Linked DNA regions of Homo sapiens: region 2 is linked to region 1. Evidence: fine-mapped expression QTL. Tissue or cell type: tibial artery. Region 1 holds a variant in brackets; the other region holds the start of a gene. All regions are shown on one strand. Distances are between the middles of the regions.

What was found. PIP is the estimated chance that this variant, and not a neighbour inherited with it, causes the effect.
Region 2: it holds the start of GYG1, and the variant in region 1 is fine-mapped to the expression of GYG1 in tibial artery (GTEx, PIP 0.92).

What each region holds. Positions count from the first base shown.
Region 1 is chr3:149,148,827-149,156,826 of GRCh38, reverse strand. HPS3 (HPS3 biogenesis of lysosomal organelles complex 2 subunit 1) reads right to left here. Exons shown (of 17, transcript NM_032383.5): 6 at 6,147-6,228; 7 at 3,179-3,333; 8 at 1,612-1,720. Among named protein-coding and RNA genes, the nearest start is that of HPS3, 23 kb to the right of the region's middle. The variant C/T (reference allele first, on the strand shown) is at 4,436.
Region 2 is chr3:148,987,190-148,995,357 of GRCh38, reverse strand. It overlaps GYG1 (glycogenin 1), which reads right to left and starts at 3,818. Exons shown (of 8, transcript NM_004130.4): 1 at 3,711-3,818; 2 at 1,081-1,216. The coding sequence starts at 3,717. It also overlaps the pseudogene UBQLN4P1. RefSeq lists silencers at 2,802-3,096, 3,130-4,179.

The DNA.
Region 1 (8,000 bases):
ATCACCTAAACGAAGACTTTCAATTAAGCAAGACTGAAAAGACAGGGCACAGCTAATATAATAATTGGCATTAAATTATTGGCAGGGACAAATCAGGCAACACCTTGACCTGATGACCAAAAATTAACATCACCAAAGAGGGGTAGATGAACAGCATGTGCCTCCAGATGTGATACCCTTAACACAAAAATCACCTATGCAATATTCTGGCTGAAAATGCATAATCTGAATCTAACCATTAAAAAAAAAAAAGCAAACCCTAAATAAGGAATACTCTCAAAAAAAAAGTAGAGGGGAAAATTATATTTTTCAAAAATGCTCATGTCATAAAACATAATGAAAGGCTATAGAAATATTCCAGCTTCAAAGGAGGCTAAAGAGACATCATAGTTAAACACACTACCTGATCCTAGACTGGGTCTTGAACTGGAGAAGGGGAAATGCTATCAAGCCATTGGGTCAGTTGACAAAATTAGACTATGAACCATAAACCAGATAAAGCACTGTGTCAATGTTAAATTTATTAAAGCATACTACTGTATTCTGGTATGCAAGAGAGTATCCTTATTCTTAGAAAATATACGCTGAAGTACTTAGGGGCAAAAGACTGATGTATGCAGTTTACCTCCCGAAGAAGAATCAGAAAACAGTGTATGTATATCTGTGTGCACAGAAAGCACAGAGTGCATAAAAGAGAGAGAGAAGCAAATAGGGTAAAATGTTGACTGTGGAGAAATCTGTGTGGGGAATGGGAATATATAGAATATTCTTCTTTTTTAAAAAAGAGTCAAAAGAGTCAGGGTCTTGCTGTGTCACCCAAGCTGGAGTGCAGTGGTACGACCATAGCTCATTGTGGCCTTGAACTCCTGGGCTCAAGTGATCTTCCCATCTTAGCTTCCAAAGTAGCTAGGACTACAGGTATGTGCCACCACAACTGGCTAATTTTTTAATTTTTTGTACAGATGGGATCTCACTATGTTACCCAGGCTAGTCTCGAACTCCTGGCCTCAAGCAACTCACCTGCCTCAGCCTCCCAAAGGGTTGGGAAGAATATACTTATTCTTGCAACTTTTCTGTAAGTTTGAAATTGTTTCAAAATAAAGAGTTAAAATAATTGCCAGGGATGAGTAGGAAGCTGTCACTCTTAGATCAGTAAGGATGCTCCCTCTGGGTCCCTCCCCCCAGGACAATGCTGCAGTAGCTGTGGTGCCCTGGGACAATGTGCTAACATTTCTAAATAAGAAGAGTGGGACAGGGATACATAATCCTAGATTTATTTATTTATTTATTTATTTGCTCCATTTCTTAGCTATCTTTGCTAGAGTTCAAATTAAGGTCAAAGACTATGTTCAGATTGGCCAATCGATCTTCTTAGGAGAGTGGGTATGAATAAGGGAGTCTTATGCTAGTGAAGGGAATTTCTACTGGTTCCTCGGATGTCAGAAGCTGTAACAATGAGGAGGCAGAGAGAGATATACATTCCACTGTCAGACAGAGCCAGGAAGCTGAATGGCTGTGGCATCCTGAATGTATGATAATTAGAATCAATTTCTGATCATTAATTTCACTCTAAATATCTACAAACAAGAATCAGAAGTTTGAAAAGAGTACCATCTCTTTGTACAGCTGCACTGGTGAGATCGTATTCACAATATACAAATTCCACCCAGCCTCAGCTACAGGAGGTATTTTGATTTTAACACTGGTATCTTTTCTCGAACTAAAAGCAAAACAAAGGACAAGAATTTTAAAATGACATTATTAATAAATGGTAGTTGTAAATGGTAAATATTGGATATAAAATAACTATAAAATCATTTTCATTTACTATTTTCCTCAGTGATTAACTGTACACTCTATTTCTATGGAATATTAGTTCACAATACTACATAGGCTAACTGCATTTAATATTCTGTAATTTTCATGTAATGATAAACCAACTGCTTCCAATTCACTCTGCAAGTATTCTCAAATGAGCAGTAAGTTCAAAGAACAGGCAAGTCCCATCAAGAGGAAAAGATCCTTGACTGCGGAAGTCCCTATACCCAGGCTCTTTTCTGCATTTGACTTTCATGAGTCTAGCATGCCCTGAGCCACAAATCTAAGCAGAAGCAACATCATGGCTGCTGAGAATATGATGAAGACACATAAAACTGTTAAGTCTGCTTAAAGCACTATCTTATCTCTTGCTTTCACTATGTGATACATTTTCTTTAGTGTACAATCTTTTATAATTGTTTATCAAATGAATTTTCAAATGAATTAGAATTTTTAAAACATCATTTAAAAAATTATACTATTAGAATGTCAAATGTGCAAGACTACAAACTGCTTTTCCTCTCCCCAGAAAGCTTTTAGGATCAGTCAGCCCCAGACCACTCTGTGTACACTCAAAGTGATCAGTTACCAAAGTCAACCTCTGATTCCTGTTGATGCAACAAAGCACAGCCACTAACAATTTGAAAAAGTAAAAATCTATGTTAAAAATAACCCATGTTTGATATGAAATACACTATATGCTTCACTCCCTGAAGAGATTTCTTTCTTGATTAAATTTTCCTTAGAGAAATTAGATTGCATTCTCTACCACTAAGTAGGAAAACATCAAATAGAAGCATAACTAGTCTGGAATTAAGCATTCTATTCTAAACAATGGGAAAGCAGAAACCTAATAAATAACAAGAGATGAATGTTATCAAAATACAACTTTATTTTCAGATACATGAGCACATATCTATAGATCATAAATGTGCTTTAAGGTAAGACATACATTATTAATTTCTTTCATAATATCAGAAAATAATTTTAGATAAAAATGTAACAACTGAAAGGGTCAAAGAAGAAAGACAGTAAAAAGTCCTGTAGTTTCAATTAGCATTATAGGCTCAGTCTTTCTCATTAATTACACAGAAAAGCATGGCCTTTAACTAATCTAAAACACCTTTGATTTTTACTGAAACTATTTTATAATCCATTTTCTCCTAAAAGTTTCCAGGTCAGTTATAAAGTGTATTACAGAGATTGTTAGAACCTTCTTTTCTTTCTCTGGAAAAAGACCACCATAAAAAAGCCATTTGATCATTCCAAGTTATGATTTGAAAAAAGATAAACACAAAATATACCAGTTACAACTCATTCCAGAAACTGGCAGGAATGCCTGGGGCAAGGGGATGCTTACAGAAGCCTCTTGGGTGACTGTCTTCTCTCTGGAATGGCTTCAGGTTCTGCTTTAGTCAAAAGTATGATGTGGTTTTTAAAGTGACAGATGGCTTTCAAGCCTATGAAAAGCTGTATTCTTAAAGCACAGACATCCATACTGACAGGTGGGCAAGCCTAGTAAAGGAAAATCACATATTTAAGCAAGAAATAAAGGTACATGCACTTCAATCTTCAAAAATCAGTCAGTTTATTTGATCAAATCTCTTCTGCTGCCACCATCCCATACCCACCACCACCAAAAAACAAACAAACAAACAAAAGACCAACCCAGATTCCTATTCTTAACAGAAGAGGTTATCTAAACCTATGTAACCAATAGTGTATTCCATAGAGCTACTCAGCCAACAAACTCAGTTATTGATTGATTGAATAAATACGGAAAGAGGGTCCCACAGCTGCAGGAACTTGTGTGTGTGCCCCACAGAGTGGCTCCACAGATACCTCCAGGAGATGAAGCTGGTACTCTGCCACCCAGGGAAACCCCCACAACTAGCAGGATGGTTGGGGGTACGCCCAAATGGGGTTTTTAGGAAAAACCAGACACTATGAAAGGACATTCTACTGCTTGTAGAGTACATAAAATGGTTTCTTTGCGGATGTGTGTGTGAAAGAAATGCTTGTATGTTCCGATGGCCCCTGACTGTTAGTCTGTTAGGTACGAATAGTGCCTGGAATGGCGGACAGGCTGGGACATGTCAGGTAAACTAGAGGAGCCAGCCTTTTGCTCTTGTAAAGGACCATTAATTCAAGTAGAATGAATAAGAAAACTAATGGAAGAGCTCTATTCTGGGAGCTCACAAAATGATGCTGCCAGGACCCTGCCTTCTTGTCCATGCATGCTGTTTTGATTCTGAGGTCATCTTCATTGTTACCTCCATGTAAAAATAGTTAAGGTGGCTTGGTTAGTGCTGAGGAGTCAGAATCTCAGAGGAAAAGGAGACAGACCACAAGCACTTTCAACCAGACTCTTGAGGTTGTGAAACTTTTTTCAGACATCACAGCTCCAAAGCCTGAGTCAGCAGGTGGGCTAAACGTGTGCTTGTTTAACTGGCACCTAGGGCTTCAGAACTGGTGGAGTCCCAGGAAAGGAGGAACCGTGAGGTGTGATTATGCCTTCCCCCTCCTACCTCCACTGGCCTCAAGGGCAGCATACCTCCACCAGATGCCCACCTCTCCTTATCCCTCCCCTTTGTCTCTTCCTTGTTCCTTCATTCTG[C/T]CTTTTATAAGACTCTGAAAATACATGGAATTATTTTTTTTCCAAAGGTACATTGATCCTACTTCAATCTATTAGGTACTTTAAATTACACCATCACCCCTATATAAGCCTATGTCTTTCTGAGGTTTGAAAACGCAAGGAGGGGAAAGAAGAGGACAAAGAATGGAAGTTTTATTTTTTTAATCTGTTACTTTTCTATTTTTACAAAGGAAATAATCCTGATTTTAAAGTAATCTCTCAAAAAGGCCATGTGTGTATCTTATACAAACAAAGGCACAGGAAATCTGTGGTTCTGGTTTCCCAAGAGGCTGACAGCAGGCAGTAAGCCTGGTCAGCAACAGAAAACCACAGGCAGGCCATTAAAAAGGGTCACTAGGAACTCAGAGACCATGCTTGCCATAAAACACTATCATATGACACAGTTTGGGTGACAGTGACCGTGAAAGAGTATCTCAGACACATTAGGCACTAAGTCGGGGCTGGCTTGTTAAGATAACCACCATTACTGAAGGCTTATCCTTCTGGAAAAAGGTATTCCAGTTTCCAGACAGATATAAACCAATTTTTGAAACACAGAGCATGATAATTTGGGAGCTTCTTGCAGCATGTATATTCCTAACAAATATCCAATTCAAATAGCTTATACTTCAGAAGTAAAATAACATAGATCAATATAATGTAAATGATCAGTGTATTTCTGAGAACAGAAATTCAAAGTCAGAAAACACCGAATCTCAACATAATAATGCCTACATTTATTCTGTGGTCAAGAGGCTTTTTTTTTTTTTTTTTTTTTTTTTTTTTAGAAACCAAGCACTTTACTTCTCACTAAAAATGAGATTATTGATCTACCATAACCATTAACTCTTCGATTAAGTATAGAAGGTTATCAAAGGCTTATAAAATACAGAATTACAGGCATAGCTGATAATAGTATAAATAAATCATTTTAATGCATCGTATTCAATTTTGTGCTCTTAAGTATATTGATTTCTGGACTGTTTTGTTAACAGCTCTGTAAAACTGCCACCAGTATTTCCATTTAGTAAAATACAATTGGGCCAGGCATGGTGGTTCATGCCTGTAATCCCACCATTTTGGGAGGCTGAGGCAGGCAGATCGCTTGGGCCCAGAAGTTCAAGACCAGCCTGGGCGACACGGCAAAACCTGTCTCTGCAGAAAAAAAAATAATAATAATAATAATAATACAAAAAGAATCAGCAGGGCATGGTGGTGCACACCTGTAGTCCCAGCTACTTGAGGGGCTGAGGTGGCAGGATCACTTGAGTCCAGGAGTTCGAGGCTGCAGTGATCTATGACTTTGCCACTGCCCTCCAGCCTGGGTGACAGAGCAAGACCCTGCCTCGAAAAAATTAAAAGTTAAAATCAAAAAAATAAAAAATAAAATTGTAGCATACAGTAGTTGTGAACTGCTCTCAGTTCACACTTTTTATATTCTTTACCAAACTTTAAAAACTATGCACTAAATCAATTCGGAGTGAAATGTTTGCAAAGCAATCTTAAAAACTGTCAACTAAGCCATGAATCACAAAATCCTCACTATTTTACATCCAAAAGTTCTAATTCAATACATTAGACAACCTTAAGCTCTTTTGTTCTTGCCTAGCTTAGGTCTGAGAGCAAATCTACGAGTATTCATGTGCTCCCTTGTGATCTTAAGGTTTCACTATCTTCATAAGCCAGTTCTTACCTTCAGGGTGGTGTCCATGTACGGGTCCTCCTCACGAGCTGCCGCCGCACTGCACCGCACAGTGAAACACTGCAGGTTGTTACTGAGGAGGAAGACACAGGCTGCTGAGCAAAGTGAGGCCAAGAACCAACATACCCACAGCAGGGAGGGTTTCACAGGCAAACAGGGCAATGGGCAGGGGTGACAGTCAAGTATTTGTCAAATATTGCCAAGTTAAACTTCTTCTCAATAAGAGGAATGCCTCAGAATCCCTGTGGTGTGTTTTTAAAAATATACAACTGGTCCCCATAACACCCCTAGTGAATCGCAATCTCTAGGGGCTGAATCTGGACGTGTACATTTCTACAAAACTCCATATGTGACTCTGATGTGCATCCCTAGTTAGGAACCATGGATCTGGGTCAGTATCTTCATTTTACAGACAAATGATGCCCCCAGTACCTGCCCAAGGTACAGATGGGTGTCTATCAAAACCAAGAGTAAAATCCATTTCTTAACTGTTGTTCTTCCTCAACCACCTCATGATGAAATCCATCCTGGATTATGCTGGACAACACAGACTATGCAAACTCAAATCCAATGGTCGAATTGAAAATGAGAGACCATCTGAAGGCATCTTCAGAATTACCTAGTCCAGCAGCTTGTTTTAAAGATTGGGGCATGAAAGGTTCATGACTGGTCCACCGCCTCTCTGGAGAGTAGAGCCAATTAGATCCCAGGTCTCCTGACCCCTCACACTCCTCTACCTCTTTCCACAACTCCAGGCTGCTTCTGCATACAAAAAGGACCTAGGGACTCCACAGTAAGTGCACAATAGATGCCTGGTTGTCATCTGTGGTTGTTATCTAGGTCAACCCTCGAATATTGACATTAAAAACAGTTAATTAACTTAGAAATTGCTACACAATGATGTATATTTCTGTTCCATTATGTGACGGGACAGAAATTGATATTTTTATTCCTTCCTTCTCCCTCCCTTTTTAAAAAAACTAGAAAGTGGGAGAAGTAAAAACGAACTCTTTAAAATAAAAAAAAAGACTAAAGCAAACCTAACAGTAATATTAAATTTAAAAAATGTCCTCATAAAAAAAGGCATTCTGATATTTTCAGTTAGGAGGCTTAGCACAATTTAAGAGGTAGTCAGGCCTCTCTCCATCTGCTGGTGCTTCCACTTCAGCCTCAGCCATCTCTGTCTATCTCTGCAACGTTCTAGGAAATGACCTCTGGAGTCCTGACAATAACTAGGACAGTAGCACTACCACTTACAAATCTGGAGTAGAGTTAGCAACCTTGGGAAGTAAACTGAGAGAGAGGGAAGCAAAAAAGCACCTGCAGTGGGACCGGAAGGACAGATGAGAATAGCTATGACCGCAAAAACAAATAGCCTTTAGATTTTAGAGATAAAAAGGCAGGGTTTCGGCCAGGCGTGGTGGCTCAAGCCTGTAATCCCAGCATTTTGGGAGGCCGAGACAGGCGGATCATGAGGTCAGGAGATCGAGACCACCCTGGCTAACACAGTGAAACCCCGTCTCTACTAAAAATACAAAAAAAAAAAAAAAATTAGCTGGGCGTGGTGGTGGGCGCCTGTAGTCTTAGCTACTCGGGAGGCTGAGGCAGGAGAATGGCATGAACCCGGGAGGCGGAGCTTGCAGTGAGCCAAGATCGTGCCACTGCACTCCAGCCTGGGTGACAGAGTGAGATTCTGTCTCAAAAAAAAAAAAAAAAAAAAAAGGCAGGGTTCCCTGACTTACCTCCACCTGTAGGAATCCAGTCTATTGGCTACTGTTGGAATCCTAAGCAGAAATGTATACTAGAGAAAGAATAAACTGAAATGTGCTGGCATTGAAAGATGTC
Region 2 (8,168 bases), 160 kb after region 1:
AAGGGCATTTTCAATTTCTTAGAGGGCCAGGAGACCAGAAAAATAAACACATCACAAAGTTACTAGTGTGCCCGGATATTTTTTAAGTTACTACTAGAGACTAGGTAGCTCATTCAGATACTTCGATTTTCTGTTGTTGTTGTTTTTTAAGACAGAGTCTCACTCTGTTGCCCTGGCTGGAGTGCAGTGGCACAATCTCGGCTTACTGCAACCTCTGCCTCCCGGGTTCAAGCGATTCTCCTGCCTCAGCCCCCAACCCCAAGTAGCTGGGATCACAGGCACGCGCCACCATGCCTAGCTAATTTTTGTATTTTTAGTAGAGATGAGGTTTTGTATTTTTAGTAGAGACGGGTTTCGCCATGTTGGCCAGGCTGGTCTGGAACTCTTGACCTCAGGTGATCCAACTGCCTTGGCCTCCCACAGTGCTGAGATTACAGGCATGAGCCATCACACCTGGCCCAAATACTTCAAAACTTAATTCCATCGGATCAAAGTGAACTAACCAATCATGAAGCAGTTTATACCCTTTAGTGTGTTTCCCCTAGTAAAACCTAGTTTGGAAAGCCCTTTGGTAAAGATTCTAGTGTATTATATTGTAAATAAAGATATTTAGCTTACAAATATCAACTGGCAATGGATAAAATAACTACTTTTCTAAGTCACCTGAGAGTTTCCCTAGTTTGCAACATGAAACAATGTAGCCCCTGCTGCATCCTGGGAAAGGAATGTCCATGAATTGTGACTGTGTAAAGGTGTATGTAAGCAGGGAATGCCTGACACACTCCTTCAGATCACCCAGAGGGGATGGAGTGAAGGAAGACGACTCCTTCTTTCCCCTCCTAGTTGGAACCAGAAAGTGTGGGCCAGCATAACACCTTCCAGAAAAGAATTGAGTTGGAATATCTCCCAAAAGCTAGGAGGAGGTTTCAAATACAGCAATCCTGCACTCAGCATCTCTCATTTTTCTCTACCCGGTGCTCAATTCCTGAAAAGAGCATGGCCTCAATGTCCAATGATGTCAGCAACAGGGAGAAGGATGTCAGAGCCCCTTGGATGCTGGGGTGGCAGCGAGGTCCTCACCTCATGGAGTCTGAGACCTGAGGGGTGGCGAGCACGACCAGCCTCCTGGTGGTCCTGTGCTGTTTCAGAGATGATCCCAGGACCAGGGCACCTTTGGCGTAGGCATCGTTTGTGGTTAGTGTCACAAAGGCCTGATCTTAATACAAAGAAAAAAAAAACACTCATTACAGTATCTTATCTGGAGAAAGCCTTTTCCCCAGGAACCCATTCAAACAGTAATTCAGCAAAACCAGTTCCTCTAACATCAACTTTCTCTATGAATCAAGCTGTAGCCCTTTGGGGAGAAAACCCCAAGTGCCCACTTCAAGAATGGTTCAAGATCATAGCAGGCACATATGGCAACCTTCAACAGGTTGATTAAGCTATAGAAATTAAATCCGACACGCTAAATTCTCAGACAAAACAATAGCTTAATACCAAGAGTTTGAACTCCAGGCAACTAACAGATGGTAATGAAGAGATCAAGTAGTACATTTGCTGTTTCTTCTACAAGGTACTGTAGACAGTGTTTTCAGACAAGCACAAAACCAACCGTCAAACTCAATTCAGTCAGTCTGAAAGCAGAGTCCATATTCTTCATTCTGGTGCTTACGTTTATGCCATGCCTCAGGAATGTATGTATGTATGTATTTTTTAAGACAGGGTCTCACTCGGCCACCCAGGCTGGAGTGGAGTGGTGTGATCATAGCTCACTGCAGCCTCGAACTCCAGGCATCTTATACATAACTGTTTCCTCAACGTGGAGCAAAAGCTCCCCTGCCCCAATATCCCTGAAAAATAACATTGAGTCTCTCCTCAAGTATCAGCTCCTCAAAGAGGCTTTCCCTCCTTGATGCTTCTATCTAAATAGTTATCAATCACTGATAAATAGATTTGGAGATCACCCAAGAAGCCCTAAACAACTGCCTGCTTTTCTTTGGAGAAGAAGGTGCAGGTCCATCCTGCACCCTCCCCCTCCCCCCGCCCAAACCAACAGACACGCACCCCAATCTCCAATAATCACTTAGTTGCCAGAAGAGAAGGTAAATACATGGATTTTTCCTCCTGCTGAACAGTCCCCACCCTCCCAAGACCCCTAGCACAGGCTTCAAGATTTCTCCAGTCATTCCCTGGGACAATTCTGGGCCATGTTCCATCTCCAAGAAACATTAGCAAGTTGGTGGGCATCCAAATGCATAGGACACTTCGGATCAAGTTCTGGTAGGAGTCAGTTGCTTAACCAGCGAGTTGGGACATTTTGTCATGAAGTCCTTCTCTTTCTGACCTGGCTTTCCCTCATTCTCCCTTGCCCGTTTTCCAAGGTGGAGGCTGGAAGCAGTAGAAATTCCACCGAGACATGAGAGGAAGTTGTGGGTTGCCTAGTGGGCCAGCGCATCCCTCGGCTGCTGACCTGAGAGCCATCTTCACACATTTTATTAGGCCCTCTCCCACGGCAGGCCAACTACTAAGTTGTAGGAAGACCAGTTCCCCACCCCCGAAGGGCCACCAGCTTCCCAGTCACTCACACTCTAGGAAAGCTCTGAACAGTGGCACCTGTCCCTTGACAGGCCCATCAACATCCGCCTGTACTTGCTTCTATTATCTTCAGCCCATTATAACATGGGTAACATCGCTGTCAATCTGTACCAAAAATACTTAAGCTAGGCAAAATGAATGATCATCTAACTCAAATGAAGTCCAGGTTCCAGGCGATCATGGAGAAAAATGTAATAAGGTGAGCAGGATTCAAGGATTTCTGGAAGCAAGGATATGGATGATTTCCAAGATTAAATAAGGGATAGAACACAGGTTAGAACACCAGACTAGCCAACATTACAAATGACCAAGAAAGACCAATGACAGCTGGGTAGGAGTTTAATCTTCCTAAAGACGGCTGAACTCTGGGTTACACCTGCAATCTTTGTGGCAGTTCAACTGCTGTAATAACCCTGGCTATTAGCCTCAATGACACGGAAGGACCAGCTAACTCGGAGCTTCCCAGTGCTGGGGCTAACTCGTGGAGTGGCCCGGACGCCTCGCAACAAGTGAAGCCAAAGCCGGCGCCCTCCCACCAGACGGGGCTCGCGCCCGGGGACGCTAGTCCGACTCCCGGCTTCCCGCAACCCGGCCCCAAAGGCCTAAAAATAGGCTCAGCGTGGCGGCCGGGGCCGGGGCGGGCGGCGGAGGAGCCGGGCGGAGGCCGCAGTATCCCCGCCTCGGAGCCCCTGCTTCCTGGGGTTCCGGGCCGCCAGAGGCCGGGGCAGCTCCCCACGATGCCGCTGCGCCCCGGACTCCCGCCTGGAACCCCCAGGGGAACCGGCTCCCCACCCCCACACGGCCCCGCCGCAGCTGCTCCGCCCGCCGGCCCTTCGCCGTGAGAGCAAGAGGAAGGACGAGGAGACGGAAGCAGGAACGAGAGCTCCGGCCGAGGGCCCGGGCTCTGCCCGGCTGCCCCATCCCTGCACTCTGGGGGGCGGCGGGGCGGCAGCTGACGCAGGCAGAAACACGCCCGGCTGCGGCCAGCCAGCAACTTTGCGGCGGTTTCGTCCTGCCGGGAACACTCCGGGGCTGAGGGCGGAGGAGAAGGGAGGCGGCGGCTGGGCAGGAAGCCGGGGTCCCGGGGCTGGCGGCGGCGGGCTGCGCGGCGGTACCTGTCATGGTGCTGCCGGGTGCGCAGGCGGCCGGGGCAGCCTCAGGTTGGTGACTCAGAGAAGCCGGCACCGGGAGGGAGCGCGGCCAGCGAGGAGGCACGGCGGGGAACCGAGCGTCTGCCCCGTGCGCTCTTATAGCGGCCGTCACGTGGCCGCGCACGCTCTCGCTGCCGTCCGCATCCTCCCAGCTGCGCGGCCGGCAGGGGCGGTGGCCCGCGGGGCTCCGGGTCCCGCGTCTCCCTCGGCTCCTCCTCCCTCCCTCGGGGCTAGGCTGCCGCTGCGGCTGCGGCTCACCGGCGCCCCTGCTCCTACTTCCCCGGGGCGCCTGCCCTTGTCAACCGCGCGCCCCCTGTCGCCGCTAAACCTGGGAGTTAAGGGGGACTTTGGGGCTGAGTGCGGCATCAAACTCCCCAAGAAGCCAAGGGTTAGGGAACCTTAAAAAACAAGCAAACAAACCCCAGATTACTCTAGTTAAAATCGTGAGTCTGAACTGCTTGAATGAAACGTAAAATTTACGCTTTTTTTGCAGAATTTCGATCAGCCTCTATAATCATTCCTTAGTGTACTCACAATGGTTTTGTACCCTTAACCTAAAAAATATAGTGAATATTTCGTAAATGTTAAATTCTTGGAGCCATCTGCATCAATTAGGCATTTAAGTGCTTCATTTAATCCTTGTACGAACTCAGTGAGGTGTTACATATTCATTTTACAGACGAGGAGGAAACTGAGCTCAGAAAAGTTAAATTAACTTTTCTTTTCTTTTTTTTCTTGTATTTTTAGTAGAGACAGAGTTTCACCATGTTGGCCAGCCTGGTCTGGAACTCCTGGCCTCAAGTGATCTGCCAGCCTTAGCCTCCCAAAGTGCTAACTTTTCTATAGTCATATAATATAAATGGAGAAAGTAGGATTTAAACCCTGGCAGTTTGGTTACAGAATCAACCTTCCCACCCAGAAAGTCTTGGTGCCTCTTGTACACAGGGGCTCCAAAAAGGTTAGTAAATTATTGTAACTGTGGTTAGCCAATGCTAACCTGTTTCACAAATCTTGAAATGGTCAATTTGTCATTTTTCTAGGAAGTTGAGAAATAGCTTTAATGTGATCACATCCTTCTCTGCTCCCCATCCCCAGTCCAAACACAGAACAAGCCTCGGGTAGTTCAGTTCTCTGCAAACTGAAAACTGAAATTGCTCGGTAAATGTTGAATGAGTACTGCAAAGCCATTTGGAAACCAATCAGGAAGTTGACATCAGTTCAAAAAGCAAAACAGATGCTTAAGAATAAGTGATTTATTTGCAAAGGTGGTACTGCTGTCCTCAAACCAGTTATATCACTGTTTCCTCGTGTGTGGGTGTGGATCTCCTACATCAGAATCACTTGGGGGCACTGGTTAAAGCGTAGATTTTTGGGCCTAAGCCCAGACCTCCTGAATCAGAATCTTAAGGGTAGGTTTATTTTGGTGCAAAATAATTTTGAAATCCATGCATTTTTTTTTTATAATATGTATATTCTATGGACTTTTTGAAGTCGCGTCATATACTCTTGAGGTAATGAAATACTCTGTAGGCATAATCATTATATATTTTTAATATAAAAAGCTGTTCAAAATATATTATTTGAAGAAAAACAGGTTACAAAACAAAAAGAATCTTAAGGGTAGAACCTTAAAATCAGTATTTTAAATATCACCTTCCAGGAGCCTCTCTTGAGTCCTTCCTAGTCTTGACCATGGCCTAGAGACCGCTGATCACATGGGAGGCCCTCCCAGTTACTTGGCATTATGTGCTTCCGTTGTAGGAAACAGAAAAGTGGAAAGGGCAATAGATGGGTTTCCACTTATTCAAAAGATATAGACATAGAAGAGTTGGAGCTCTTTAAGGAACACAAAGGCTACACTTTTGTATCTTAAGTGGGGAGAGGGAAAACAAAGAGAGGTACTTCTCAGTCTGATTGCTCTTTTGCAGACTGAGAGGTGAACTTGGAAGAGTGAGATTTCCATCTTTCACCCAGAACCCTCCTGCCATCAGCTGACCCTTAACCATCTACTTCTTGCAGCCTACTATCTCAGGCTGGACTTAGCCAGGGATGTGGTGATGGGGCTGAAAGGGCAAAGCCAGGAGGTAGAACTGGGGACAACTGGGAAAAACAGAAAAGCTTCCCTTAGAACAAGCTCCTCTCTGCTGCAACTCCCAGGACGTTTAAGTAAAAGGAACGGTTACCACAGCTTCCCTTCCTGAGCTTCATGTATATTTACACAAATAGAAAGTTTACAGCTTTTACCACTTTGAATCAAATAGGGACATTTTGAGGTTGCTACAATCTGTTCTTCTTCATTGTCTTAATATAGATCATAATGACCCCACTGCCTACTTTTCCTGAGGCTGCCCTGCAGTGAGCTTCAGTCTGGTGTGAGAGCAAGACCTCTCAAACTTTAATGCGCACACAGATTGCCCAAGGATCTTATTAAAATGCGGATTCTGACTCAGTAGTTTGGGGGTGGGTCTCCCAGGTGATCCCCAGGCTATGGACCCACACTTTGAATAGTGAGGTGTTCAAACATTTTGGATTGTAAGGCCTTAGAGGTAGTGGATAAACATGGTATAGTGAGGCAAATGTTTCAGATTTTAGCTTGTTATTTTTTTTCTTGTGAAACTTGAACTAGTAAAATTACAGAATCCTAAAAGAAAGATTTAAGTTAAAAAAGATAAGTTATACCCTACATCAGTAGGCATGACTATTAACCATTTAAACCTATGCTGAATTCATATATTCGGAATGGTCCAAAATTCATTTTAAATTGGCTTTGTAATGCATTATGTAATTTTTTTGGCAGGATACTTACCTTCCTAATTAAGTTTTGTTTAAGATAATGCTGAAATCAGTTTGCATTCTTTTGAGCACACACACTAATTGATGGTGGGGGCAACTGACCTGGAAATATATTCCGGAGCAGAGGGCAACCTACTCGCCTGAGAATCAAATGGTTCCCACGGAAAGTTTGTGAAATACATATACCACATCTGGCCAGACACAGGAACTAACTAGTCAACTAACTTAAAATTTTGCCCTTAATTGATAACATACACAATCTGTACCTGGGATTGTTGTCGGTAATCACAATATCAAGCAAAAGTTTGGTTTCAAGAAATAATATCCTTGGAGGCCCAAAGTAGTCCGTTCTTCACTTGAAAGCTAGAGTCCCAAACTCCAAAAGTTGCAGTAGCCTGATGGCTGGTTACATAGCTTTTTTTTTTAATCCTTATTGTTACATAACTCACATTGTGTAAAATTCAGCCACTTGTGCTGAATTAAAGTGTATACCTAAATGGTTTTTAGTGTATTCACAGAGTTGTACAACTATTACCACAATCTAAGTTTAGAACAATTTCATCAACCCAAAAGAAATCTGTACCCATTAGCAGTCACTCCTTACTCTCTTCTTCTTTCCCTCAGTCCTGGGCAACTACTAATCTACTTTCTGTCTAAACATTTGTCTATTGAGATTTACCTATATGTTGTCTTGTGTAACTGGTTTCTTTCATTTAGCATAATGTTTTCAAAGTTCTTCCATGTTGTGAAACGTATCAATATTTCATTTCTTGGCCAGGTGCAGTGGCTCACGTCTCTATTGCAGCACTTTGGGAGGCTGAGGCAGGCAGATCACCTGAGGTCAGGAGTTCAAGACCAGCCTGGCTAACATGGCGAAACACCATCTCTACTAAAAATACAAAAATTAGCCGGGCATAGTGGCACACACCTATAATCCCAGTTACTCAGGAGGCTGAAGCAGGAGAATCGCTTGAACACGGGAGGGGTTGCAGTGAGGCAAGATTGCGCCACTGCTCTCCAGCCTGGGTGACAGGGTGAGACTTTGTCTCAAAAAAAAGAAAAAAAATGGCAGAAGCCGAGCCGGGCCGGCCGGGCGAGCGGGGAGGAGGAGGAGCCGGGCGGGCTGGCGGGCGGCCGGGTGGCGGCGGCGGCATGGCGGAGCCGAGCGGGGCCGAGACGAGGCCCCCCATTCGGGTCACCGTCAAGACCCCCAAGGACAAGGAGGAAATTGTGATCTGCGATCGAGCCTCGGTCAAGGAGTTCAAAGAGGAAATCTCCCGGAGGTTTAAGGCTCAGCAGGATCAGCTGGTCCTGATCTTGTCAGGCAAGATCCTCAAGGATGGGGACACACTGAACCAGCACGGAATCAAGGACGGGCTCACTGTCCATCTGGTCATCAAGACCCCTCAGAAGGCTCAAGATCCAGCTGCTGCCACTGCTTCTTCCCCCTCCACACCTGACCCTGCCTCAGCACCCTCCACCACGCCTGCTTCACCCACCACCCCTACCCAGCCCTCCACCTCTGACAGTGCCTCTTCGGATGCTGGCAGTGGAAGCCGGAGGAGCAGTGGTGGGGGGCCCTCTCCAGGGACTGGGGAGGGATCCCCCAGTGCTACTGCGTCCATACTC